5 separate regions of the Homo sapiens genome follow, and regions 2, 3, 4 and 5 are each linked to region 1. Evidence: fine-mapped expression QTL. A gene starts in region 1. Each other region holds a variant in brackets. All regions are shown on one strand. Distances are between the middles of the regions.

Region 1 (5,100 bases):
TTTCCCTCCTCTTAAAAGAATTCTAGAAAGAAAGGGCTTCCTGGCTAATGTGAGTGCTTCCCATCAGCCAGTGTGGCAGGTATGAAGTTGGATTAAATAGCTTGTTCTGGGAGATGTTGCTCCATGGGTCAGGCTGCTCTGGCTCCCATTCAAGGGTGGGACCTTATCACAGGCACTTCGTCCCTGCCTGGGCCTCAGTTTCCCCCTTGGGACAGTGAGATCATCACAGGGTGGAGCCATGGCCCAAGTACCGATGGCTTCGTTGGCCTTCGGAGCTGCTCCAGCTTTCCCTTGAACACTCTGGGCCCACGTTCCCCCTTGGTGGCAGTGACGGTCACCAGGCTCTCAGGAGTGGCCCCTGTAGACGCTCTCATCCCTGGCCTAGGGAGCTGGGGCAAGTGCAGAGGTGGGGAAGGGGAGGGTTCTGGGGCTCACAGCAGGAATCAGGATCCCAGCTCTGCTGACTCTCATGGGGTGAGAGTGGTTGACCTTGGAACCAGGGTCTTAACCCCTTTGAACCTCAGTTTTCTCTTCTGTAAATGGATATCACAGCCTACCCCCGCAGATTTGCTGATGGAATTGGAAATGACACCTCTACAATGCCTGGCACCCAGCAGGTCTCCAAAAGAGCAGCCTTAATTATGATGTAGCACGAGGATCCTTATCTGGGTAAGGACATCTGGGGGGTGGACCCGGGGCAGCTGTGCTCCCCTAGGCCACACAGGAAGGCTCCCCAGGGCTCAGGCACAGACTGCGTCAAGGGGCTGCAGGCAGGTCCAAGCACACTGCAGGGCGGCCCCACCTGTGTCCCATGGGGACTGCACCCCCACTCCTATAGGAATGAGTCACTTCTGGAGAAGCTTGTCCAAGCTGCCCCCAGGACCCTCGGGCCAGGGACAGTTTTAAAGCAGCCTACAAGATGAGCAGGGGCTTTGGGGCCCTAGGTCCCACTGAGGACCCCACACCATGGACTCCAGGGTGCGCTGGGCTGTGTTGAGGGTTCTGCACCCGCCTGTCCACAGCGGATATTCTTGCGGTCCCTTTGGAAAATGCATGCCGCCCGCTCAGCTGGGTTTGGGGTGTTGGTTTTTCCAGCTCTCTGGGTTTGCTTCCAGGAGGGCTTTCTGGTGTGATGTTGTCTACGTTTAACAGCTTTACTGAGGCATAATTGACACCCCATGATCGCTTCCGGTCCCTAACAGAACGGAAGGCAGGGCACCACCCCGCCTCCCCCCCCACCCCGTCCCCGGCAGGGCTTGACGTGGACACTGGGAGCCCACGCCTGGCAGCCAGACTCGCTCCCAGAGCCCTCGCTGGCCTGAACCAACACACTAGGGCCCACCGCGGCCGGCCCTGCAGCTGTGAGATCCTGGCAGGTCCCAGCCCCACTCCTGCGCTTCCGACGGGCTGCAGCCTCCGAGTACTGCCAGAGCCCAAGCAGTGTGAGTGGGCACCTGGCGGGACCCCCCGCCCCACGAATGCCGCGCGTGCTTGCCAGGCTGGGCGGCGGCGAGTGAGGAGCCCGCACCACCCGGCCCACACACGAGCCAACGTGGAGCGAGCCCTCCGCAGCCAGGTTGGGCCCGGGCCGCTGGACTCTCCAACCAACCCACGAAAGACAGAATATTTGGTGGGCACTCACGATTCTTAAGAATTGGCTCAATGTTTTATAACTCTTTCATTGGAGTATAATAAACATGGATGGGGGAAAATGCACCTCGTCTGATATTCTTTTCAAACAAGGAGGAAGCCATAAAGCCGCTCCGCAGGCCTCTGCAGACAGCCCAACATCTCTTCAATGCGGGGCTGCGGGGCACTGTCCCAAAGCCAGCCGCAGGGGTGAGGGGGTCGAGCAGGAAAGGAAAGCCTCGCTTTCCCTCTCGGTCCTGGTGGTGGGCGGCCCCCGCCGCCCTGGTCCCTGGAAGTGCAGCCCAGTAGGCTAGCGTCTAACTTCAGCGCCCCAGCGTGCAAGGTCAAGGCCTTTCCTCCCGCGCGGGCTGCGGGGACGTGGGCGGCTGGGACTTGGGGAGGAGGGGGTACGGACCCAGGCTCCAGAAGCGCCAGCCGCCGCGCCCCCTCACCGCGGCCCCCGCCAGGAGAGCCTCCCACGCCTCGGCTCCGCACTGCCGGTTGGTCCCCCACTCCCCTGAGGGCGGAATCACTTCCCAGTCGCTGGCTGCCCGCCTGCTAGCGGCCTCGCCACCGCAGCAGACCCAGGTCCCGCGCCCAGCACCCGCGGCGAACCCCGGCACTCCGGAGGCGGGGCCGAGGATCGGCGCGGGCGGCGACGGCAAGAGACGCCACGGGGGCGGGCCAGGGGCGGACCGGGGCGGGGCGGCGGCGGCGGACTGCGGAGACGCGGCGGCGCGCGGGGCGGCGCAGAGCGTTCTCGGCGCGGAGTGGAGCGGAGCGGGCTGGTGCTGGGGGCGCGGAGAGCGCTGTGCTGGCCGGGGCCGGGAGCGGGGCCGAGCGGGAGCGGAGTCGGGCGTCGGGCCCGGGGAGCCGGGGCCGGGCGGGGAGCAGCCATGGCACCGCGGAGGGTCGGGGCCCGCGCCGCTGCGGGCGGCCTGGGCGCCGAGTAGCCGGGCCGGGCCGGAGCGCGGGCGGCGGCGGAGGCAGCTGCGCCCGCGCCTCCTGCCCTCCCAGGCCCCGCGCCCCGCGCCCGGGCCCCGGCGATGGTGACACATGCGGCGGCGGCGCGCCGGCGGCAGGACCATGGTTGAGCGCGCCAGCAAGTTCGTGCTGGTGGTGGCGGGCTCGGTGTGCTTCATGCTCATCTTGTACCAGTACGCGGGCCCAGGACTGAGCCTGGGCGCGCCCGGCGGCCGCGCGCCGCCCGACGACCTGGACCTGTTCCCCACACCCGACCCCCACTACGAGAAGAAGTACTACTTCCCGGTCCGCGAGCTGGAGCGCTCGCTGCGCTTCGACATGAAGGGCGACGACGTGATCGTCTTCCTGCACATCCAGAAGACGGGCGGCACCACCTTCGGCCGCCACCTCGTGCAGAACGTACGCCTCGAGGTGCCGTGCGACTGCCGGCCCGGCCAGAAGAAGTGCACCTGCTACCGGCCCAACCGCCGCGAGACTTGGCTCTTCTCCCGCTTCTCCACCGGCTGGAGCTGCGGGCTGCACGCCGACTGGACCGAGCTCACCAACTGCGTGCCCGGCGTGCTGGACCGCCGCGACTCCGCCGCGCTGCGCACGCCCAGGTGAGCGCCCGGGCGGCGGGATCCTCGCGCAGCTGCGCCCCCGAGGCCGGGCCGTATGCCCGCCGTGCTGTACTGGGTCGGCCCTGCCTTCCCTACCCCCTTCTGCCCTCTTGGGGGCCCCCACTCGCCGGCACCCCTCCCGACCTGCCGAGCGCCCGAGGCTCCCAGCTCCTCTGGGTGAGCCGGCTGTCACCGCGCTTTCTGACCTCGCTCTCACTCTCTTCCTTGCCTTGTGCTGCCCTACTGCCGGCTTGACTGCGCAGCGCCCGGGTTTTCTCCAGGGTCCCCGCCCGCTGCCCTCGGGCCACCTTACCTGCTGTGCGCCGTGAGGTCTGGCCCGCCGGACTTGGGGACGCGGGCTTCTGGGTGTGTGCGTGGCCTACCTGGAGTGTTGGCTTCCCCGTGCCGCTTCGGTGCTGTGGTCCCAAAAGTGGAAGTGAGAGTAGTGAGGTGCCGCCCCTGTGCCTGGAGTGCCTGCCTTCAGAGGGTGGGGGAGCTGCCAGGGAAGGGGGCTGGCTCTGCCCGCCTGCCTGCCGGTGTGTGCAGGTAGAACAAAGGCCCTGTTGACCTGGGGCTGGGGGCGGGGAGGAGGCAGTACCGCCTGTCCTCCCAGTGGGGCCTGCCAGCCGAATTCTTCCAGGCACAGGCTTGCCTGGAGAGAGGAACAAAAGCCACCCGATGGGGGACCACCTTCCCCAGGAAGCTACCAGCCAGGTTGGGGGTAGTTGAGCTGGTCCAGGGAACCTGTGCTGCCACACCCCTTCTCTGGGGTCCCCCAGCCCCATGTCAGAGCTGAGCTGCGTGAGGACACAGAGCATGGGAGGGGTGCCGGGGCAGCTCTTCTGGGAAGCCGTTTGTAGGGGAACCTGGGGTGCTGCTGGGTTTCCAGCAGTTAAAGTTGGGGTTATTTTCCTCCTGTTCCTGTTGGTGCCCATTCGTCCTGCAGGGATGCCCTGCGGGGCCTTTCTCCCCAAAGTCTGGGCTGGGAAGGGCCAGGAGCAGGGCTTCTTGTCTGCCTTTTGTTTCTCTTCCAAATTTGCCTTAGGACTGAATTTGCAGACAGGCTGGTGGTAGGAGGCTGGGCGGTTGTAGGCGTGTTGGCTGGCACTCTTGGGTCCAGAGGCTGTAGGCTCTCAGGTGTGCCTGGGGAGCCTGGAAGGTCCAGCCAGCCTGGAGCTGAGCAGAGTCCGAGACACTGCTCCCCTGCACAGACCTCAATCCTTGCTCTGTGGTCTTTCTCAGGCTGTCAGGAAATTGGGGTCCTAGAGTTGGAGGGGCATCTTCCCACTTTTCTTTCTCCCCCCTCCCCCAACTGTACACACACACACCCACACACACACACACACTGCAGCTCCCAGCCTGGGAGGTGATGTTCTGAGCCTCTTACAGCCACATTCTACACTTGGCGGTCACAGAGCTGCCTGTCTAGGGCCCCTGAAGGATTGCTTCCGGCCCAGCACTTAGTCTGCTCTGCACAGATGCACGTTCCTGCTGCAGGGCCCCCCTAACCCTGGTCCAGCTTCTCTGTGCTAGGCTCAGCTGTGCCTGGGACCACAGCCATGCCCCCACCCACCCTTCCACCAGTCAGAGCAGTAGGCTCCCAGAGTTGGTCACTGACCAATACCAACAGACGCCTCCCTACCTGTGGGGGGTGCAAGGATGGGGGTCACCCCCTTTGCCAGAGGGACTTAGCTCGGCAGCCTAAGAGGATTGCGTGGAAGCTTCGGGCCGCCAAGAAGCCGGAGCTTTTGAAACAAGCCTGCTCAGCAGAGGCCACCTCAGCCCTAGATTGCAACCAGGATGCTCTTCCTGCAGCCCCGCACGCCTGTGGGTCCCCAGGGTGAAGAGCCTTGGCCTCCTTTCTCTGGAGTTTGTCCATGAGAGTGGG
Region 2 (5,100 bases), 30 kb after region 1:
TGCCCAGGCTGGAGTGCTATGACACGATCTCCGCTCACTGCAACCTCCACTTCCTGGGTTCAAGTGATTCTTACGCCTCAGCCTCTTTATAGGTGCGTGCCATCATGCATGCTAAATTTTTTTTTTTTTTTTTTTTTTTTTTTTGTATTTTTAGTAGAGACGGTGTTTCGCCATGTTGGCAAGGCTGGTCTTGAACTCCTGACCTCAAGTCATCCACCTGCCTCAGCCTCCCAAAGTGCTGGGATTACAAGTGTGAGCTACCACGCCTGGCCAAATTAAGGGACTTCTATTCCTAGTTTCCTGAGAGTTTTTATTATGAATAGTGTTTTTAGCAGATGCTTCTTACACATTTACTGAGCTCTGTAGTCTGTTGCTGTGATGAGTCACATGTATGGATTTTCTCCTGTTAAGCCATCCTTGCATACCTGGGGTTACTAAGTATGGTCGTAGTGTAATATCTTTTATATGCTCAATTGGGTTGGATTTGATAAGATTTTTGTTGAGGAATTTTTGTATCTATATTTGAACTCTGAGCTTAGCAGATGTGTCCACCAGGCTGCAATTTTCCTCTCTTGTGCATTTGTCCAACTTCGGTATTAGGATTATGTTGGCCTCATAGAATGAATTGGGAGTGTCCACTGCTTTACTCTTGTCTAGGAGGGTTTGCTTACAAAAATCTGGTTCTTTTAAAATTTGGTAGAAATAGCCCAGCACTTTCTTTGTAGGAATTTTACCCCTAACTTTTTATCTTGAAAAATGTCAAACTTACAAAGTCGTTGAAATGGTAGTAAAGTGAACCTCATACCTTTCACCGAGACCCACTGCTTGTTAACATTTTGCAATATTTGTGCTTGTGAGTGGGTGCTCTCACTTGCTGTTTACATATATGTATATCTGTAGATACATGTGTACTTACATGTATATTTATATATGTAGTTATATACATGCTTTTGCATTTTAGTAGAATCATTTGAATGTAAGCTGCAGGCATTTCCTCAATATTTTAGGAAGATTTTAAACTACTGCTTTGATTTTTGCTTTTTGAGATTATCGGGCTATTTGTGACTTATATTTGGACATTTTATACAAATAATTTGACTGACAGCTATCCTCTCTCTATCTCTTACATGTTCTCCTGGTGCCTCTGGCCTGTGGTTGGTGAAAGCAGGTAGGTCTGTTCCGGCAGCTTCCTCTCTTTCCCTGCCAGCTGGGGTGGGCCCATCCTCATGCCGAGCGTCATGCTGTGACCTCCAGGAGGCATATTGTCTTGTTTTGTGCAAGGAGGAAACAGATGACAGATGCATTCCTTGGGGAACTCGTCAGGGCCACACAGCTGCTGGATGGCAGATCCCTTAGCAAGCTGGAGACCTGTTTTCTGGTGCTGCCAATGGCGCGCCGGGTTCTCCTGGGAGCTTCGTGCTGCTCATCTCAGGGACCGTGCACGTGGGTGAGCAGCAGACATGCCTTGTGGCCTATGAAGTCAGACACCTCTGGTATCTGGGAGACTTTGGCTGCAGAAGGATCTCTGAGTCTCCATTTGCCCATCTGCAGGGGGATCTAATAGTGGCGACCGTACCGGGGTTGCAGGAATAAAATGAGCAAATGCCTGCTGGGCCCTAACCTTTTTTGGAGGCACCAACCACAGAAGTGCTTGATGGGGGGCCATAAAATGGCTGGTTCTGGAGAGTCAGCATTCCCGAGTCCCCAGGGTCACTGCTCAGGTGACAGCTTTCTCAGTGCATCACCCGGAGCTGTCGCCCTCCTTGTAAGTAGAGCCAGGGCCATGGGAGTATAGAGTTGGATACTGCAGTTAGCTTGGGCACAGAATGGCTTATCTCTGGGGTGGGCTGTTTAGGCTCTGAATTTCCCTGTCTGGGGAAGAATAGTCTACATTCAAGAGCATGCAAGGCCATCTCTCCGCGGCCGCCTCTGTGTTTATATGGACTCGGGGGTTGAGGGAGCAGGTGTCAGCCCCTCTTCGCTGCAGAGAGGCTCTGTGGGGTCGTGGGTGAGAACCAGGACTTTGCCTCGGACCCTGACATGAGTTGCTGTGGGGTCAGCAGGAGGTGGAGCCTGGAGGGGTCCCAGGGACACCCCCAGTGATCCTCAGATGAGCTCTCGCCCTCCTGACCCCGAGAAAGGCTGATTACTGGTGATGATCCTGTGGCTTTGGAGATGTCCTGAGAGGCTGCTGGGGAGGCCCTGAGCCTCCCAGGCCTCCCTGACTCTCCTACCTCCTGTGAGAAAGTCAGATTAGATTGT[T/GTACATTATCGTT]TTGTTTGTTTGTTTGTTTTCTAATACATGCATGGTTATATAAAATCGGAAAAATACAGAAAAAGTAAAAGAAAAAATGGCCCAGGGCACTAGGCCCAGGGCACCTGGCGCGGGTTGCATTTCTGCTCCATCTCTCCAGTTGATGTGTTTTCCAGAGTTGGCATCAGGCTGTACCCACAAGCTTTGATGTGGCTCTTTTGCCCATTGTGCACACAGATATGAGCTTCTGTGTTAATGCAGAGTCCCCAGAAGGGCTGTGCTTTTCTACTGCCATGGAGTCACCGGGCGTAGGTATCAAGTCGTGCTGGCTGGCCTCAGGGCCCTGAGCACTTTCTCACCTGGCAGGGACAGTTTCATAGCAGGGTACAAATACTGCACACCCCGGCAGGACCTGACGCTGCCGCCAGCCTCCCTCTCGGGCCTCCACGTCTCTCTTGGTGGGCCCAAGCAGCCATGGTGGATGTGTAGTTACAGGCTGTAAGGAAGAGGAAGGGCCACGTGAGTCCTCGCAATAGCCTCAGCAAAAGGCCTAGAAGCAGAAGGAGTGAGCCCCAGAGCTCTTGGCCAGGACAAGAGGAGGCCATGGCTCTGGAGACAGGTCTCAGGCCGAGCCAGCCCGCCCCTAGTCAGCTGCCCTGCTGCTCGACTGCGTGCCCTGTGAAGAAGCAGGGCACTGTCACCTTCTCCTGACCCCAAGGTATGAGTGTGTGCGTTCAGGCATAAGTGACATCTCGCCTGCCGGTGTCAGAAGCCAGAAAGTGCCAGGCAGGCAGGTGTGAAATATGAATGGGCAGCCTTCATGACCGGCGAGCAGCCCCGCAGGGCCCTCATGGCCTTGCTGGAGCCCTGCCTTGGAGCAGCAGGCAGGAGAGTCTGAAGGGCAGTGGGACACAGGTGAGGAGGTGGTCCTCACCCCTTCTGCTCATGGAAGACCTCGGCAGAGCCCCATTCCAGGTGTCCAGTCAGCAGCATCTGGGCCCGGGCTGCTCACAGCCATGCTGGGCTTTTGGACAGGGTCAAGCTCCCAGAAAGCCATCCGCCTGTTCTCCCCTCATTGAAGAGGGCTGGTGCAGAGCACCCCTGGACCCGGCGTCTCTAGCTGGCCCTGCTGGGAGGACATTGTCAGCACCTCCTCTTGTGGCCCCTACCCTGGGGGTGACTTCTAGGACCTCCAGAAGTCACAGCCTTACCTGACACCTGCTAGGTGGAGGCAGTCCTAAGCCTCACATCCCGGCTCTCTGCCCAGTTCTCTGTGCACCCCCACTTCAGTGCTGTTGGAGAAGCAGCCCGTCAGGGGACCTGCTGGGGGTCTCGTTCACCCTCACTGAGTAGGGGGGGCAGCTGTCCCTGCCCACAGCTGGGCAGTGCATCTCAGGGGAAGGGGCCTCACCTGCACCTTCTCTGGGGGAGTGCCCTGGGCCCTGGATATATCCACTGAGGTGCTCTTGCAGGGGGACTGCCCTGGTCAGGAATGGGAGTGACCATTCCTGGGACCAGGAGGGGTTGGGCGCTTCCTTCCCATCAGTGCCTTTGTGGAGGTGTGGCGGGTGTGGCCTGCATGGCACCCCACAGTGTGTGTCCACCTGATGGCTAAGCCACCCCCTGCCCCAGAGGGTTCCTTGTCAGGGCGCAATGAGATCATGCAGGTCAGGGGGCTTTGAAGGAAAAGCTTTGGGCTTCCCCCAGTGTGGGGCCTCTGCTTCCTGGTCACTTGCTCCCCGACCACCCCAAGGGGAAGGTGGGAGTCTCAGGCTCCTAGGAGGCATTCAGAGGGGCCTCCTGCTTTGGGGGATGCTGTTCCCCAGGCAACCAGGTGGGGCCTTGGTTTCTCTATCTGGGTGGGCACAGCTTTGCAGGAGGCAAGGCGTATCGTGGCCAGCAGCCTGCTCTGTTTTCTGAAACCTTTGCTGACCTTGTTTGTAAAGCCAGCAAAGATTTTCACCCGCTTGCAGACGTTGTTAGGGAAGGGGCTGAGGAGGTATTTCCTAAACCTACGCTAATAAAGCCTCTTGTTTTTTATTTTTTAACAAGTCAGTATTTTGACACAAGGTCAGAAGTTTTCCTTTTTCCCACCATTTAATAGCAGTGTCCTGTCCTTGAAACCATGAACTCATTTCCTCTTCTGACCAACCCGTGCATTTGGATGGCCTGCAAAGCCTGGGCGTGCAGTGCAAGCTCCCAGGGGCCCTGCCCGGCCTCCTGCCTGTCCTCTGCTGCTCTGCAGGTTTGTCTGGAATTCATTCCCCAGCCCCCTTGCCAGGCCTGCTCCTCCTCGTCCTCCAAGCTCCTGACCTGCAGTCTGATGAGGCCCCCTGACCCACCCCTCCCTGGCGCTTGCTTGCCTGGGTCTTTAGTGTCTATGTTCCTGGCCCTGCAGGATGCTGTGAGAGCAGGACCCTGGCTCCAGCCCGCAGACCTCGGCCACGATAGATTCCCCCTGGGAGGGAGGAATAGGAATGGCAGATTGGATGGGACAGGGACTGTGACAAGGTGAGATCACACAGCTCACATCTGCTGCACCTGCTGGGGTCCCCCACGCCAGTCCTGGGCTGGATGAGCCCTCACCCCTGCAGGGTGCTGTAGGCTCTAAGTCTCCCTACATACGCCACACACCAGATCGCCAGTCTGGGAAGTGGCTTTCTGTCTACGAGTTTTATGGAGACAGTCCCTGGGGCTCAGAGGGGCCAGGGTGACTGTCCCCAGGCCACACAGGACAGCTGGCAGAGCAGGAATCCCACCTGTTCATCCATCTGACACTGGGACCTGTGTCCCCTCTGGCTGTCTCATCCAATTCCTCAGCCCCCTTGCCGGACAGAGCTATTTTGGGGCAGACGGCAC
Region 3 (5,100 bases), 42 kb before region 1:
AACATTCTGGAAAGCCCCACCCCAGTCGCTTGGGGTGGAGACTGACTGGAGCCCAAGCCACCAACTCCGCACCGCTCCTGCCTTCCCCGGAGCTGAGTCTGGAAAGGATGCAGACATGCTTGGAATCTCAAAAATGTGCCCCTTCTCAGGCCTCTGCCTGCACCGCAGCTCACTCAGCCTCCTGGGAGTCAGAGAGTGGAGCTGGGGCTCCAGGGTGGTCTGGGAAGGAAAACCCACCCCCCACCCTCCCAAGACAGGGTGGAACTCCTGCCCCACCCCCAACCTAGCACATAGATTTCCTCTGCGCACCCCCAGAGCTGCCTGCAGGCCTCAGTGGGGCAGCTCCAAGGAGGAACACTGGCTCTAATCATCGCTGGTAATGCAGCCCTGGGGGACACCATCCCAACGCCATGATCTTCAGGAAGGCCCAGCCCTCAGGGGCCACAGCAGACAGAATATGGCAGACAGAGGACCGTAGACAGGGAACAGGAGACAGGGAAAGCAGACAGGGGATGGCAGGCAAGAGACAGCAGACGAGGACTGCACGCAGGGAACAGGGGATAGCAGGCAGGGGACAGGGGGCAGTGGACAGGGGACAGCAGACAGAACAGTAGACAGGGGACCGCAGACAGGAGACAGTAGTCAGAGGACGGTAGATGGGACAGCAGACAGGGGACAGTAGATGGAGACGGCAGATGGGGACAGTAGATGGGATGGTAGACAGGACGACAGACAGGGGACAGCAGGCAGGACAAAAGCATCTTTCCAGCAGCTCCTGCCTGGACTGAGCCCTCCCACACTCTGCACAGGGCCTAGAGGAGCTGGGAGGTTAAACACGTGCGGTGAGCCTGCCTAAGAATCTCATCTCAGTGGCTCAAGTGCAAAACAATTTTATTTTTCCTCCAATCACTGCCTTCAGCCATATGTGTTAAATCTCTCTTTAGACACATCCAAGTATAAAAATCCAGTCCAGAAGAAAAGGTGTCCGTGCACTGGAGTCTAGTTAAATGTGCATTTCCCCTCCACGCTCCTGTCTCAGGGCAGAGCAGAGGCTTAGGGCTGCAGTGCCAGGGACTGCACTAGGGGTGGCCTCTTCCCCTGAGGATACACCCGACAAGGTTCCAAGCCTGCCAGATCCCAGCCCTCCTGGGTGCATCCACAGCACAGCACCAGGTCAGCCACGCTCGGTGGTGCACTCTGCACTCACAGGAAGCTCCAGCCTCCTGGACACACCAGATGGACAGAGGTGTCTGGCTCTGCCCTGGCCCCGCTTTAATCCTCTCCCTGCTCAAGGAAGCTGGGGACAGAGCAGCACATCAGTCTGGGCCACCACGCGATGGAAGGCCCGTGCCCCCTACCTGCATGACCCTCCAGTTTCCACCGAGGACCCTCCTCACCTCCCAGGGTACCCTCAATTCTCTTTTCAGCTTGTCTCTCAGGATGAAGGCAACCACTGCTGTCCCCACCACCCTTGCTGAAGTGCTTCCATAAAGCACATGCACCCAGGGAGCTATCTGGTCAGCTCTGCCTGCTCTAAGGTAGTACCACAGCCTGGGAGGCTTAGCAGCAGATGCGTGTTTCTCACAGTTCCGGAGGCTGAAGTCCAAGATCAAGGTGCTGGCAGATGTGGTGCCTGGTGAAGGCCTGCTTCCTGGTTTGCTGGTGGCCACCTTCTCACTGTATCCTCACATGGTGGAGAGAGATCGTCTCCCGTGTCTCTTCTTAGAAGAGCGCTAATCCCATCATCAGGTCAGGACCCAGCCTCATGACCTCCCCTAAGCCTAATCACCTCCCAAAGGCTCCACTTCCTCCTAAGATCTTCACATTGGGAGTTAGGGCTTCAATGTATGAATTTGGGGGGCACAAGCATTCAGTCCATAACAGTACAGATACCCATGATACTGTGAAAATTACGATGGGCATTGTATGAATGACACGGTGTCACACTTGTATCACCTCCTGCAAAACCAGCTGGGCTCTGCCCAGCGGCCTCCAGCCATTGGGGCAGGAGACTGGGAAGGACAGAGCAGACCTGCAATGGCGGAGCAGCCTCTGTAGGGCCGAGCTCTGCCTGGGGCTTTCTGCAGTCTCTCTCCTGTAGACCTCAATAACCCCATCATCTCCATTTCACAATGAAGAAACTGACCCTGAGAGAAGGTGTGTGATTTGCCCAAGGTCACTCAGCCAGCACAGAATGAAGCAGACAGCCTGACCCACATCTGAGTCTACACCAGCGATGTTCCAAAGGCGGCCTGGGGGACCCCCCAGCGTCTCAGGATCTTTCCAGGGATCAGAAAGACCGGACTTACTTTCACAGTAACACGGAGCCCTGATTTGCCTTTCTCATGCATTTTCTCACAGAGGTATCCAGGGGGCTTTCAGAGGCTCTTGATGCATAACGCAGCCTCACCCTGATGGCTGACAAAACGTGTGCTTCTGTCTTCCCGTGTTTTGCAAATTTATCAGTTTTAAACTCTAATGTAGTGAACACAGTTGTAACCACGGAGTGCTGGA[A/G]GATGTTAAACCACCAGCTCTCCAAGCCATAGGGCCCCACTATGCAGTATTTGCCACTTTCCGTGGTGTAAATATTTTCACCATGATCGATGTTAAGCCACCAAAATAACATCACTGGGTGCAGAGGTGGAAAGAAAGTGCACAGTCAGTTCTTGCCAGCTGGTGAGACAGCTGAGGCACATCACTGAAAAGACGCACACAAAACAGGAGCTCTTTAGGGTCCTCCCTATTTTTAAGGGTGTAAAGGGGTGCTGGCATCAAAAAGTTTGAGAACACTACTACATCACCCCTGACTGAACAAGGTGCAAAGAACTGCAGGAGGTGCCATCAGGACTTGGGAGGCAGGGGATCTGGTCTCCACCTTCTGGAAGCACCAGCCTAACTGGGGAGCCCCTGATGGGACTCAAGCAAGTGAAGGGAGAAGATGTCTGGCCAGGGTTGGAGAGAGGACGAGCCTGTGGCCTGGAGAGGCCCCGGGGGCACGGGCCATCAGCTGGGCGCTGGTGCCATGGGGAAGCCTGGGCTCTGTTGTCAGGATGCCCTGCTTTCTGGTGAAATCGGCTGTGATCTCCCCATTGGCATCAGTGCCCTGGACACTCAGGGTCCCACGGCCGCCAGGCATGCTGAGCAGGGACACAGGTGGAGCAGCAAGAAGCCTGGTGGTTTGCAGACTGACAGGGCAAGGGCCCCTCCAGAAGGGAGTGGACTGAGTCAAACAGGTTAGACTTGACGTGGTCCACTGACCCCAAAACCGACGGCCAATCCACTTCGTGTTGCTGTAAAGGAATACCTGAAGCTGGACAATTTATACAGAAAGGGGGTTTAATTGGCTCTGGGAGCATCTGCTCCGCTTCTGGGGAGGCCTCAAGGAGCTTTCACACATGACAGAAGGGGAAAGGGGAGCAGGCATGTCCCATGGTGAGAGGGGAGCAAGAGAGAGGAGAGGGAGGTCCAGACGCTTTTTAACAATCAGATCTCATGGTAACTCATTACCACAAGGAGGGCACTAAGCCAGTCATGAGGGCCCCACCCCACTGACCCAAACACCTCCCACCAGGCAACGTGAGGCTTGGAGAGAACACACATCAAGCCATATCCCTGCCCTTTAGCAGCAGTCTAGCTGAGGCCCGAGGTGCAGCGGCTGCCCGACCCAGCTGCGGCCACCAAGCTTTTTCCAAGCATCTACTCCAGTCAGCTGTGGTCCAGGGGCTGGGAGCCCCACGAAGAAGGCTAGCAGAAGCCAGGCTATGAGAGGGCAGCCAGGATGCCCTCATGCCCAGGAGAAGGAAAGGCAAGCCCTGGGTGCAGGAAGAGGCAATGGCAGAGGTGTGAAACAGCCTCAGGGCTGAGAGGCAGGACCTCTGAGACTGCCCAGAGCACAATGAGGCGAGAAAGGCGCGAGAAAACCACGGCTGGCACGCCCTGCCAAGTGTCAATTCACCCAGCCAGAGACTCAATGCTGCTGGAGTGGTCCGTCCCAGAGGGCCCCACAGCCTGGTCCTCATTGGTCTCCCGTGCTCTGGTTGGTGGCGGTGGGGTTTGGGGTCCACTCTGAAAGCCTATCCCGCCCTTACTTCTGGTTACTCTTGGTAGACTTGACCTAGCCTGCTCCATATTCCTCCCCATTCCCCAGGGCTTCTGAGCAGTCTCTCCTTGGAGGAAGCAGGCTGGGAGGAGGTAAGTGTGAGGCTGCTGGCATTACCTTCCCCCGCATAGGCAGGAGCTGTCAGAAGGAAGCTAAATGCCAATAAACCTTTTGCCCAAGAGGATGATGATGGTTTGGCTTCAGTGACTAGTTATTAAAAGTTATTATTTTTTTTTGAGACACAGTTTCTCTCTTGTTGTCCAGGCTGGAGTGCAATGGCGCGATCTCCGCTCACCACAACCTCCGCCTCCCGGGTTCAAGCAATTCTCCTGCCTCAGCCTCCCGAGTAGCTGGGATTACAGGCATGCGCCACCACGCCCGGCTAATTTTGTATTTTTAGTAGAGATGGGGTTTCGCCATGTTGGCCAGTCTGGTCTCAAACTCCAGACCTCAGGTGATCCACCCGCCTTGGCTTCCCAAAGTGCTGGGATTACAGGCATGAGCCACCGCTCCCGGTCAAAAAGTTACATTTTCATTTGCAGAAGCATAGACAGCAATGGGGAAAGGAGAAAGGGATCATTAAACTAGGGGCATGTACAGCTTCCAGGGCTCAGTGTGAACAGACGGACAGCAAAGGATTGGCAGAGCATTGCCTTCACCTCTGTCTACTGAGACTTGAAACGTATTGAGTGCCCTTTACAAAATCATCCCATTTCATTCTCCCAGCCCGGCAAGGTAGGCAGAACCTTCACCCAAAATACATCGTAATTGAGAAAACAGAGGCTTAGAAAGGGTAAGTGACATGCCCAAGGGTGCCCAGCTGGTTGATGGTGGGGCCAGGATTCACAGGCTACCTGACCACCACCCTCTCAGCCACCAAAACCTAAGGTCAAGTGTGAGAGCCCAGGAGTCTGAGGCAGGACACGAATATACCTCTGAAAAAGCTGGAAGATGGAAAAGACAAGCGGAGTTCCCAAATCCTCATTTGACATGCATGTTGT
Region 4 (5,100 bases), 20 kb after region 1:
TTTAAGAGCTGAGCAATTTTCCATTCTGAGCTGGGCTGCTCTTCCATCCTGAGCTCTCAGAAGTCTTTGAAATGGTCCCAGGATATTAGAGGAGATGCTTTTCCAAAGACGATCTGCTGTCATTGCAGACACAGGAAGGGTAGCCTGGAGCCACATGGCCCCTGGGAACCCCTGCCTGACACACAGGGCGCAGGAGCCATGCAGCCCCTGGGGATCTCTGCCCAACACAGAGGGGTACAGGAGCCATGCAGCCCTGCCTCACACAGAGGGGTGGCTAGAGCTACGCAGCCCCCGGGAACCCCTGCCCCTCACAGAGGAGTGGCTAGAGCCATGCAGCCCCCGGCGACCCCAGTCCCACACAGAGGGGCGGCTAGAGCTACGCAGCCCCCAGAAACCCCTGCCCCTCACAGAGGGAGGGAAGGCTGGTTTCTATAGACCATTCAGGAGGCTGTTGCTGCATGTACCCAAGCAGCCAAAAGCCCAGACTCCTCAAACTTTGTGACCCAGGGCTCCCATTCCTTTCTTTTGCCCTCCCCAGCTAATGACAATGACAGAGGCACTCATTTCTTAGGCATGTGCCATTGCACCCACCCCCACCACACACAGCACACGGTGGCGGCTCTCCCTTGAGAAAGATACTGGCGGAGGCTCAGACGGGGTGTGGGGCTAGCTGCTCTGGAGGGTGAGACACGCCCAGAGCAGCTGGGAGGAGGGTCTGCCCTAGGCATCTCATGGATTGACTGTGGGCACAGCTGGCATGGCAGGGGCCCTGGGTGTGGCCAGGTGATGCTGCCGGGCAGAAGTTGGGCCCAGTCCTGGGCATCCTCGTCCTCCACCTGCGTAACTCAAGGTGGTCCGCCCACCCTGCCCTTAGTTACAGCCTCCCCCGAAGAGATTAATTACAACAGGTGCTAGACAGACAGTCCTATGGGGGTCCCAGCTGTCCCTCCCTACTTGCTGGGAGAGGGACTGGAGCTGCTCAGCTTCAGGGCCCAAGAACCCAGAGATACCCCCGTGCACACAGCGCCCCAGGTAGACACCTCCGCGAACACACGGCCCCCTTGACGTGGCCCAGGTGCAGGGCTGGGGGCAGGCGTACTGTGGAAGCCACACCTGGTCACCAGCATGGCCCAAGGCGGCGCTGGTTTGGGAGAGGGTGGGTGGTCCCCCCCTCTTCTCCAGTGTCCCATCCCTGCCAGGGTCCAGGTAGGGATGGTAGCTGTGTCCTGGGGCTGCAGGCCCTCTCCGGAGGGCAGGCTCCGCTGTGTGGGCCTCCTGCACAGCCTCGTCCATGCCAGCTATGCCCTCAGCTTAATGCCGTGGGTTGGGGATGGGCCTGTAGTTCTGGTTGCAGGAGCTTGGAGTGTGCTTGGAACTTTGGAGAAGCCCCCCATTTTACAGAGGAAGCCGCTGGGGTCCTTGGTTTGGTGAATTCAGCAGTATAAGCAGAGTGTCACCCGGGTCCAGGCCTGACTCTCCCATGCTGCCCCAGCCTGGGCTTCACAAGACAATCTGAGTGCTGATGGGAAGCGGCTGGCAAGACCCCGGCCTGGAGGTGGGGTAGCCCTCTGCCCACCAGAGCCACCCTGCCTTGCTGGCGCTGGTGTTTGTGCTGCCACAAGCTGTGTTTCCTCCGTCTGCTCAGAGCCCAGGGGTCTGCTGCCCTCGCCAGCACCCCCAGCCTCCGCCTGGCAGATGGGCTGTGTTAGCAGGGCCGGGATGGGGGAGGGGTTATGAGCCTCTCAGCCACAGCTCCCTACCCTGTGTGCCTCTGTCTCTCCGCCAGCTGGGGTCTTTCCAGGCAGGCCTGGCCCACTGTGATTACCCTCTGTGCCCCAGCTTTCTGCCGGGGGCCTGGCACAGGTCACGCGTGGCCTTCAAAGACAGAGATCCACTGTGCTCCTCACCGGCTTGTGAGCTCTCTGCTTCAGTTTCCTCATCCACCACATGGGGCTGGGCCTCAATGTGCCTTCAGCTGCTGCTGTGGCTCTTCCTCATTGGGCCTGGAGTGTCCAGCGTAGGGGTCTGGAGGATAGGGCATGACCTGCCATCCACTCAGTTTCCCCACATGTCACACTGAGACTGGGGCCAGCAGAGCCTCAGCAGCATAATTTGCAATCTGTGTTGTGTTGACCTCTTATAGTTTGCTAAGAGTGGGCCGGCCAGGGCAGAGGGCTCGCTCCTGCTGATGGGCCTGTGTCCAAGGGTGCAGCTGTGGCCTCAGTTTGCTCCTTTGGAGGACGGGAGAGCAGAACACCACCTCCCATGCTGTTGGGGTGCGTCGGGGAGTTGTGGTGCAGAGCAAGGAGGGAGCTGTGTGCTCTCTGCTGCATGGCAGGAGGCAGGCACTTGCGAAGCCTGCTCTGTCCCTGCAAAGAACAGAAACTGGGTCCTTGGCTAGGTCACACCTCGGCCCTGGGCCACGTCCAGGTGTGTTTCTGCCCCATCTGAGGCCGATTCTGGTGCCCTTGGCCTCTGGTCCTCTCATTCCGAGAGCCGAGGAGTACCCCACACAGTCATGCAGGAGGGAGAGGGAGTGAGGGGTGGGTTAGGCCTGGGCCAGCCCCACTGGTGGGCCCAGGGTGGCCGCGCCCAGGGACGTGCTGCTTTCCCTCCTGAGAAGCTGTTGGGACTTGGCTCTTGAGGACACTCGTTGTGGGAAAGCCTTTTTTTGTTTTTTATTGTGGTGAAGTATGCATAACATAAAATTTACCATTCTAACCATTTTTGAGTGTACAGTTCAGTGGCATGAAGTACATTCACATTGTACAGTCATCACCATCATCCGTCTCCAGAACTTTTTCATCTTCCCAAACTGAGCTCTGACCCCATTAAACACGAACTCCTCATTCCCCTCCCTCCAGCCTCTCACGCCGTCCATCCTACTTCCTGACTATGAATTTGGCTACTCTAGATAGCGGATTTAAGTGGAATTATATGATACTGTCTTTTCACGACTGGCTTAGCATAATGTCTTTAAGGTTCATCCATATTTTATCCTGTGTCAGAATCGCCTTCCTTTTTAGGGCTGAGTAATACTCCATCGTCTATATGTACCATATTTTGCTCATCATCCCTTCATCTGTCAGTGGACTCTTGGCTGCTCCCTTCTTGCTATT[G/A]TGAATGATGCTGCTGGGAACATGGGTGTACAAATATCTGTTTAAGTCTCTGCTTTTAGATTGTTTGGGAATATATCTAAAAGAGGAATTGCTAGATCATATGGTAATTCTGTATCTCATTTTTTTTGAGAAACCACCATACTGCTTTCTACAGTAGCTGTACCATTTTACCTTCCCACCAGCACTGCAGAAGGGTTCCAGTTTCTCTACATCCTTGCTAACATTTCTTCCTGTTTTTTGATAATAGCCAGTCTGATGGATGTGAAGTGGAATCTCATTGTGGTATTGATTTGCATTTCCCTAATGGCTAACGATGTTCATCTTATATCTGCTTGTTGGCCATTGGTCTGTCTTCTTTGGGGAAATGTCTACTCAAATGTCGCACATTTTTTAATTGGGTTGTTAAGTTATAGGAGTTCTTTATATATTCTGGATATTAATCTCTTATCAGATATATGATTTACAAATATTTTCTTCCATTCTGTGGGTTGCGTTTCACTCTGTTGATACTATCCTTTGATGCACAAATATTTTCAATTTTTTGTTTTGTTTTGTTTTTGAAACAGAGTTTCACTCTTGTTGCCCAGGCTGTAGTGCAATGGTGTCATCTCGGCTCACCGCAACCTCTGCTTCCCAGGTTCAAGCGATTCTCGTGCCTCAGCCTCCTGAGTCGCTGGGATTACAGGCATGTGCCACCACGCCCAGCTAATTTCTGTATTTTTAGTAGAGACGGGGTTTCTCCATGTTGGTCAGGCTGGTCTCGAACTCCTGACCTCATGATCAGGTGGATCACCCACCTCGGCCTCCCAAAGTGCTAGAATTATAGGCATAAGCCACCATGCCCAGCCTAAATGTTTTTAATTTTGATGAAGCCCAATTAATCTAGCTTTTCTTTTGTTACCTGTGTTTGGATGTCATATTCAAGAGATCATTGCCAAATCTAGTATCATAAAGCTTTTTTCCTGTGTTCTAAGAGTTGACAGTTTTAGGTCTTACCATTGGTCATTAATCCATTTTGAGTTAATTTCTATGTATAATGTTAGATAAGGGTCCAATTTCCTTCTTTTACATGTGGAAATCCAGTTTCCCCAGCACCATTTGTTGAAAAGAGTGTGTTTTCCCCATTGAATGGTCTTGGCACCATTTGACCATATATGCAAGGGTTGATTTCTGGGCTCTTTATCGTATTCCATTGGTCTATATGCCTATCTTTATGACAGTACCACACTGATTTGACTACCATAGCTTTGTAGTTAAGTTTTGAAATCAGGAAATGGGAGTCCAACTTTGTTTTGTATTTGTTTTGGTTTGGGGTTTTTTTTGTTTGTTTTTGAGACAGGGTCTCGCTTTGTCATCCAGGCTAAGGTGCAGTGATGTGAACCTGGCTCACTGCAGCCTTAACCTCCCAGGCTCAAACAATCCTCCCTCATTGGCCTCCCAAAGTGCTGGGATTACAGACATGAGCCATTCTTTTTTGTCAAGTACTTTAGCTATTCAAAATCCCTTGAAATTTCATATGAATTTTAGGTTAAGTTACTCTATTTATGCAGCAAATACTGTTGGGGTTGTGATAGGGATTTCATTAAATCTGTAGATTACATGAGTAGTATTTACATCTTAATGATAGTAGGTCTTTCAGTTCATGGACATGGGATGATTTTCCATTTACTGGGGTTGTCTTTAATTTCTTTCATCAGTGTTTTGTAGTTTTTAGTTTACAAGTATTTCACTTCATTGGTTAAGTCTCCTCCTAAATATTTTACACTTTCTGATGCCAACAAAAACATAATTGTTTTGTTAATTTCCTTCTTGTATTGTTTGTTGCTAGTGAATAGAAATACAACTGATTTCTTTTAATTTTTACTTTAACAACATTGTTAAGTTAGTTTATTAGCTCTAACAGGTTTTTGTGTGTGGAAGTGGATTCTTTAGCATTATCTACATATAAGATTATGTCATCTGAGAAGAGAGATAACTTTCC
Region 5 (5,100 bases), 130 kb before region 1:
GAGGCTGGTAGGTCATGGAGGCTGCTGGGTAATAGAGGCTGATGGGTAATGGAGGCTGATGGGTAACAGAGGTTGGTGAGTAATGGAGGTTGGTGAGTAATGGAGGCTGATGGGTAATGGAGGCTGGTAGGTCATGGAGGCTGCTGGGTAATAGAGGCTGGTGGGTAATGGAGGCTGATGGGTAATGGAGGCTGGTGGGTAACAGAGGTTGGTGAGTAATGGAGGTTGCTGAGTAATGGAGGCTGATGGGTAATGGAGTCTGGTAGGTCATGGAGGCTGGTAGGTTATGGAGGCTGGTGGGTAATGGAGGCTGGTGGGTAACAAAGGCTGGTATGTAATGGACGCTGATGGACTGAGGATCTGTGGGAGGCTGAGTGGGGTGAGGCTGAAGCCACCAAGCAGCTGCTTTGGACTGAGTGCAGCAACAGTGCAGAAGTGACTGCGCTTGGACCGGCCACTGGGCAGGTGAGAGACAGTGTGCGAGAAGTGAGGGGAACAGGCTGGACAAGCCACCATCAGGCTACATAGGACCCATGCTCAGCGGTGACACTATGTGGTGGGGTCAGGCAGCCACAGAGGAAATGGGACTAAGTTCTTAAGTGGAGTAAGACCCAGGACAGCCAAAGGGCGGGGAGGCCTCACCCGGAGGGAGAGGGGCTGGAAATCCTCCTAAATAAGGTGGGGGAGGTTCAAGCCCTTAGCTGGAAAAATAAAAAATAAGAACACATATCTGCATGCAGCTGGGGAAGGGGGCAAGGGGCTCACCCACCTAAACACCAGGCACAGAACGCACCTGCCTCCTTGCCCCTCCTGCCCTCCACTTCTAAAACCCAGACTCAAGACTCATCCTGGTTACTCTCACAACAAGGTGACGCTGGGACTGGATCAAAGGCTATTTCTTCCAAGGAAATGTATTGCTGAACACACCGAAACCAAAGCACAGAACATCTCAGGGTAACATTCTGGACTTAGGAAACAGGAGCCCTGTTAAGGCCGGAGGGCCCTTCCTGCTGCCACTACCAGAAGTTGGGCTGGCCCCAACCCAGACACAGGGTCACAAATGTAAATATGTCCAGAGCACTTTCCAACATCATGGTGCCACCGGCTCCCAGAAGGCTTCTAGGGCACTGACCCAGCCCCTCCAGCAGGGACACTGGGGCCCCCAGAAACCGGTGTGGCCCTCGCACACATCTCCAGCACAGTCCTTCTTACCCATCCCCCAGGCGAGGCACTTAACCCCCCTGAGCTGCTGTTTATCCATCAGTAAAATGGATAGAATAATATCAATCTCACCAGGGTGTTATTTAGATTTATTTATTAATGCTGGCAATATACTCAGAGCCCTCAAGATTAAAGCAATAGATCATCAGGAAATATTATGGCATCCTGTTGCCATAGCGATGGTTCCATTCTTCCGGCTCCTCCTCGAGCCCTGCTGCAGCATCAGGCTCAGAGGGTCTGGGGAGCAGAGCTGCACCAACCAGGGCATTAACACTAACAACAGTGATAATTAAATTACACAGAGAGGAAGCCCATGAAATATGTATGGGAGAGAAATGGATTTGATTCATTTAGGCAAATGGGCATGTTTTCCCATTAGAAATGGCTCCCTGGAGCCTGTGGCTAGCTCTCTGCAGCACTCATTTCTTTAGATAAAGCAGGGGATTAGGGGGTTCTGGAAGACGCCTAAGTCAGGGGCGGAAGTGGGGCAGAGATCCAAATTCTGTGCAACCTTCCTGAAAACACAGCCGCTGCCCCAGGCCCAGGGGGGCAGGGTTCTTATTGCAGAAGGACCCTGAGTCTGGCCCTCACCCAGCACTCATGAGCAGCTTCCGCAACTCCCTAGCTGTCTCTTCTGTAAAACGGGGTGACACTGGGAGTGACCTGGGATTGTTGTGATAACTCAAGGAAAGAGGTAGTGGCTCCTCCAGTGGTGACCCCTGAAGGAGTGGGGCCCTCTGTGCTGAGGAGATGCCTGGTCTCAGAGCCGAGGCGGGAACGCTGTCTGCCTGCCATTGGCCATCCAACGCACCATCCAGCGAGAGCATACAGCAGCCTTATGACGCAGAGGCATCAAAGAGACCCATGAAGCAGAGGCATCAAAGCTAGGTGCATCTCCCAGTCTTCTTCATCCATTCCTTTTCCTCACCCTCCCAGGCTAGCCCAGCCCAGGCCACACTTCTGGGTGGCCATGTCCACCCTGAGTGGCCCTGCCTCTGTAGAGGCCTTAGTGACAGGGACCCAGCCTCGTCTGCCTGCTCTCTTCCTGTTTAGGATGGGGTGAGCCTCAGCCACCACTTTCTGATCCCAGAGACAGATGTCACTGTCCTGTTGGGAGCTGCTGCAGCTTTGGCCAGGAGCCGGAAGTAAGCCTGATGCCAGAGGCCTGGGCCTCTGAAGGGAAGGGCTGGGAGCCAGACACACGC[G/A]GGGCTTCGGAGTTGCGGTATATCCCCACCAGCACTGGGAAGACAGCGCCACAGCCCCACTAAGCCTGCCCTCTATAGACGGCCTTCCCTGAGATGGCTCAGTTCAGACCGGGAGGGTCAGGCTAGGAGCACGGGGCCCAGGCCCACTCCCGGAGGCTTCTCTCTCCAGCAAGGCCACCACCCACTGCTCCTCCACTCACGCAACTGGGAAGGGCTGGCTGTGCCTTGGGCCCACCGCCCTCCTTTCTTGGTTACAGTCTACTTGCAGAGGCTCCACCATCCAAAAAGATCTCGGGAAAGGCCCCTCCAGCACATGTGGTTCATGCCGTGGAGTGAATTCGAATCCCCATGGTAACTGCGAGAACAAGCAGTGCTCAGTGTGCACTCTACCCCAAGACAGCCCCTGAGGCCGTACTGTTACCACGCCCGCTTTACAGGTGAAGAAACTGAGGCTCAGTGAGCCAGTCACCACCCACAGTCAGAGGGCATCAGCCAGACAGGACTCAGATCCAGCTCGGGCCCCTCTCCCAGGAAGATTCGTGTTCATCACTGACAGAGGACTCCGTCCTTTGGTAAATCCCAGGCCCATGCTTGTGTGTGCCGGGGTGGGCACCCTGACTTAGTCCCTTGCTGCATCCCTCAACTGTTCAGCCCAGGCAACGTCCCTGACCCCTCAGGGGTTTTACAGGTCCTCTGCCATCTGCGTGTACCTGTAATGACCAGGGGGAAACAGCTCTTGAGGACAGAGACAACATGCCAGCACACAGCTCCTAAGGAGCCTGGGTCTCATTGACCTACACAGCAGCCAGGCCCATGAATACCCACCCACGTGGCCAGGGAAGGTTGGGGGTGCCTCCCTAAGGGGCCAACTGGGCTACTGCCAAGCAGCTGTCTGAGGTTGCCAAGGGGCACCCTGACCCGGGAAGTCACTGTCTGGGTCTGGTTCTCACATCATCCTGGGTGGCTTCCAACTCTTCTCATGGCTGGGGCCCCCTCCAGACCAGGAGCTTCTCACAGGCAGGGACAGAGCCTGATTCACCTGGGGCCTGAGCCTCCCACCTGCACTCCCTGCAGGGGTGGAACCAGCTCTCTGATTCCAAGGCCCAGCCTCTCTCTTCCCACCTCATGAAGGCTCAAAAGGACTGACAGCCCCCTTCCACTAAGGCCCTCGGCCCAGACCCCTCTCCTGTTGCTCAGGGTTAGTGAGCAGAAATGGCCATGGCTTTGCTCTCAGACATTCTAGCCACTCAGCAGCACCCCTCACCCTTGCCACTGGCCAGGCACTGTTCTGGGCATGGAAGAGACTGGGGGAACAAAGCAAATCGAAACCCCAGCCCTGGCGATGCTCACATTCTGGCGAGGGAAAGAAAAGACACCCATCTCCGTGGGACATCACTGAGCACTGTGGCGAGAGGATACGGCAGGGCAGGGGGCAGTGCTGGGGTGACAGGGAGGAGGCAGCACGTGCCAAGGCCCTGTGGCGCAGCCTGCCTGAAGTGTCCAGGTAAACGAAGAGCACCTGGGCTGAGCTCCTGGGGCCCTGGTGGGGGCCTAATACCTGCCAGGTCCTTCATAGCCACCATATCCCTGGAGCCCCACAGCCATCTGACAAGAGTTAGCCCTGTTTTGCTGTTCAGGAAACTGAGGCCCAGAGATCTTCGATGGCTTTCTAAAGGTCACCCACAGTGTATGATTTGATCCTAGTCTGCGTGGCTCCAAAGCCTGTGTGTGTCCACCTGCCCCCACCGAAACGCTGTGGGTCCCGCCCCCCACCTGCCCCCACCATAATGCTGTGGGTCCCGCCCACCACCTGCCCCCACTGTAACGCTGTGGGTCCCGCCCCCCACCTGCCCCCACCATAATGCTGTGGGTCCCGCCCCCCACCTGCCCCCACTGTAACGCTGTGGGTCCCACCACCCACCTGCCCCCACCATAGCTCTGTGGGTCCCACTTCCCCACCTGCCCCCACCATAATGCTGTGGGTCCCGCCCCCCACCTGCCCCCACTGTAACGCAGTGGGTCCTGCCCCCCCACCTACCCCAACCATAATGCTGTGGGTCCCGCCCCCCAACACCTGCCCCCACCATAATACTGTGGGTCCTGCTCCCCACCTGTTCCCGCCATACCACTGTGAGTCCCGCCCCCCTTCCTGCCCCCATTGTAACGCTGTGGGGTCCTGCCCCACACCTGCCCCCACCATAATACTGTGGGTCCTGCTTCCCACCTGCTCCTGCCATAAAGCTATGGGGCTGGCTCCCCAGCACCTTGCCCAGGCCCAGGTGTCGATGTTCCTCCCAAGGAATGATTGGGTGGATGAATGAACACTGAGATGTACCTGGGTGTGGTGGCCTCCTGAGCCCTGCTGACAGGGGAGATGGTCTGCCTGGACAGGGGACTGGCCAGGGCTGTCTTCAGAGCAGGCGGCACCACCCACGGGGGCCATGGCTGGGAATGTGTCCACTGCTGCTGGGCAGCCCCAGCCAAGCCCAAGGGAGGCAGAACAGTGGCCTCCGGTCAGTGTCCCTTTGCCCAGCTCCAGACCCAGGGCAGGCATTGTGGGTGATCAGCAGGGGCCATACCCCACCCAAAGTTGCCTCCCCACACCTGGACTGACGGCCCCTGGAGGGTGGTAGCAGAGAAAGACACTGGGACCCCCGGGTGCTCCTGTCCCTCT

Direction of the effects. Alleles are on the strand shown, and positions count from the first base shown. SD is a standard deviation of normalised expression in the study named. Not every link is listed here.
As copies of G replace A in region 3, the expression in tibial artery of the gene that starts at base 2,381 in region 1 goes up (small effect, 0.26 SD a copy in GTEx).
As copies of G replace A in region 4, the expression in skeletal muscle of the gene that starts at base 2,381 in region 1 goes down (small effect, 0.24 SD a copy in GTEx).

What was found. PIP is the estimated chance that this variant, and not a neighbour inherited with it, causes the effect. A credible set is the group of variants that fine-mapping cannot tell apart.
Region 2: its variant is the best candidate, but not a certain one, in a credible set for the expression of HS6ST1 in thyroid (GTEx, PIP 0.53).
Region 3: its variant is the best candidate, but not a certain one, in a credible set for the expression of HS6ST1 in tibial artery (GTEx, PIP 0.56).
Region 4: its variant is the best candidate, but not a certain one, in a credible set for the expression of HS6ST1 in skeletal muscle (GTEx, PIP 0.57).
Region 5: its variant is the best candidate, but not a certain one, in a credible set for the expression of HS6ST1 in monocytes (BLUEPRINT, PIP 0.79).

The regions. Positions count from the first base shown.
Region 1 is chr2:128,316,149-128,321,248 of GRCh38, reverse strand. HS6ST1 (heparan sulfate 6-O-sulfotransferase 1) reads left to right here and starts at 2,381. Exons shown (of 2, transcript NM_004807.3): 1 at 2,381-3,212. The coding sequence starts at 2,686. RefSeq lists silencers at 2,039-2,448, 3,143-3,372 and an enhancer at 4,374-4,523.
Region 2 is chr2:128,285,862-128,290,961 of GRCh38, reverse strand. The region is part of intron 1 of HS6ST1 (heparan sulfate 6-O-sulfotransferase 1); the gene reads left to right. Among named protein-coding and RNA genes, the nearest start is that of HS6ST1, 30 kb to the left of the region's middle. RefSeq lists an enhancer at 2,300-3,129. The variant T/GTACATTATCGTT (reference allele first, on the strand shown) is at 2,263.
Region 3 is chr2:128,358,056-128,363,155 of GRCh38, reverse strand. No RefSeq gene overlaps it. Among named protein-coding and RNA genes, the nearest start is that of HS6ST1, 42 kb to the right of the region's middle. RefSeq lists enhancers at 104-642, 643-1,181, 1,182-1,721. The variant A/G (reference allele first, on the strand shown) is at 2,515.
Region 4 is chr2:128,296,413-128,301,512 of GRCh38, reverse strand. All of the region lies in intron 1 of HS6ST1 (heparan sulfate 6-O-sulfotransferase 1), which reads left to right. Among named protein-coding and RNA genes, the nearest start is that of HS6ST1, 20 kb to the left of the region's middle. RefSeq lists enhancers at 1-374, 375-972, 973-1,571. The variant G/A (reference allele first, on the strand shown) is at 3,120.
Region 5 is chr2:128,447,249-128,452,348 of GRCh38, reverse strand. The region is part of intron 1 of LOC105373611 (a long non-coding RNA gene); the gene reads right to left. Among named protein-coding and RNA genes, the nearest start is that of HS6ST1, 130 kb to the right of the region's middle. RefSeq lists an enhancer at 2,951-3,942. The variant G/A (reference allele first, on the strand shown) is at 2,427.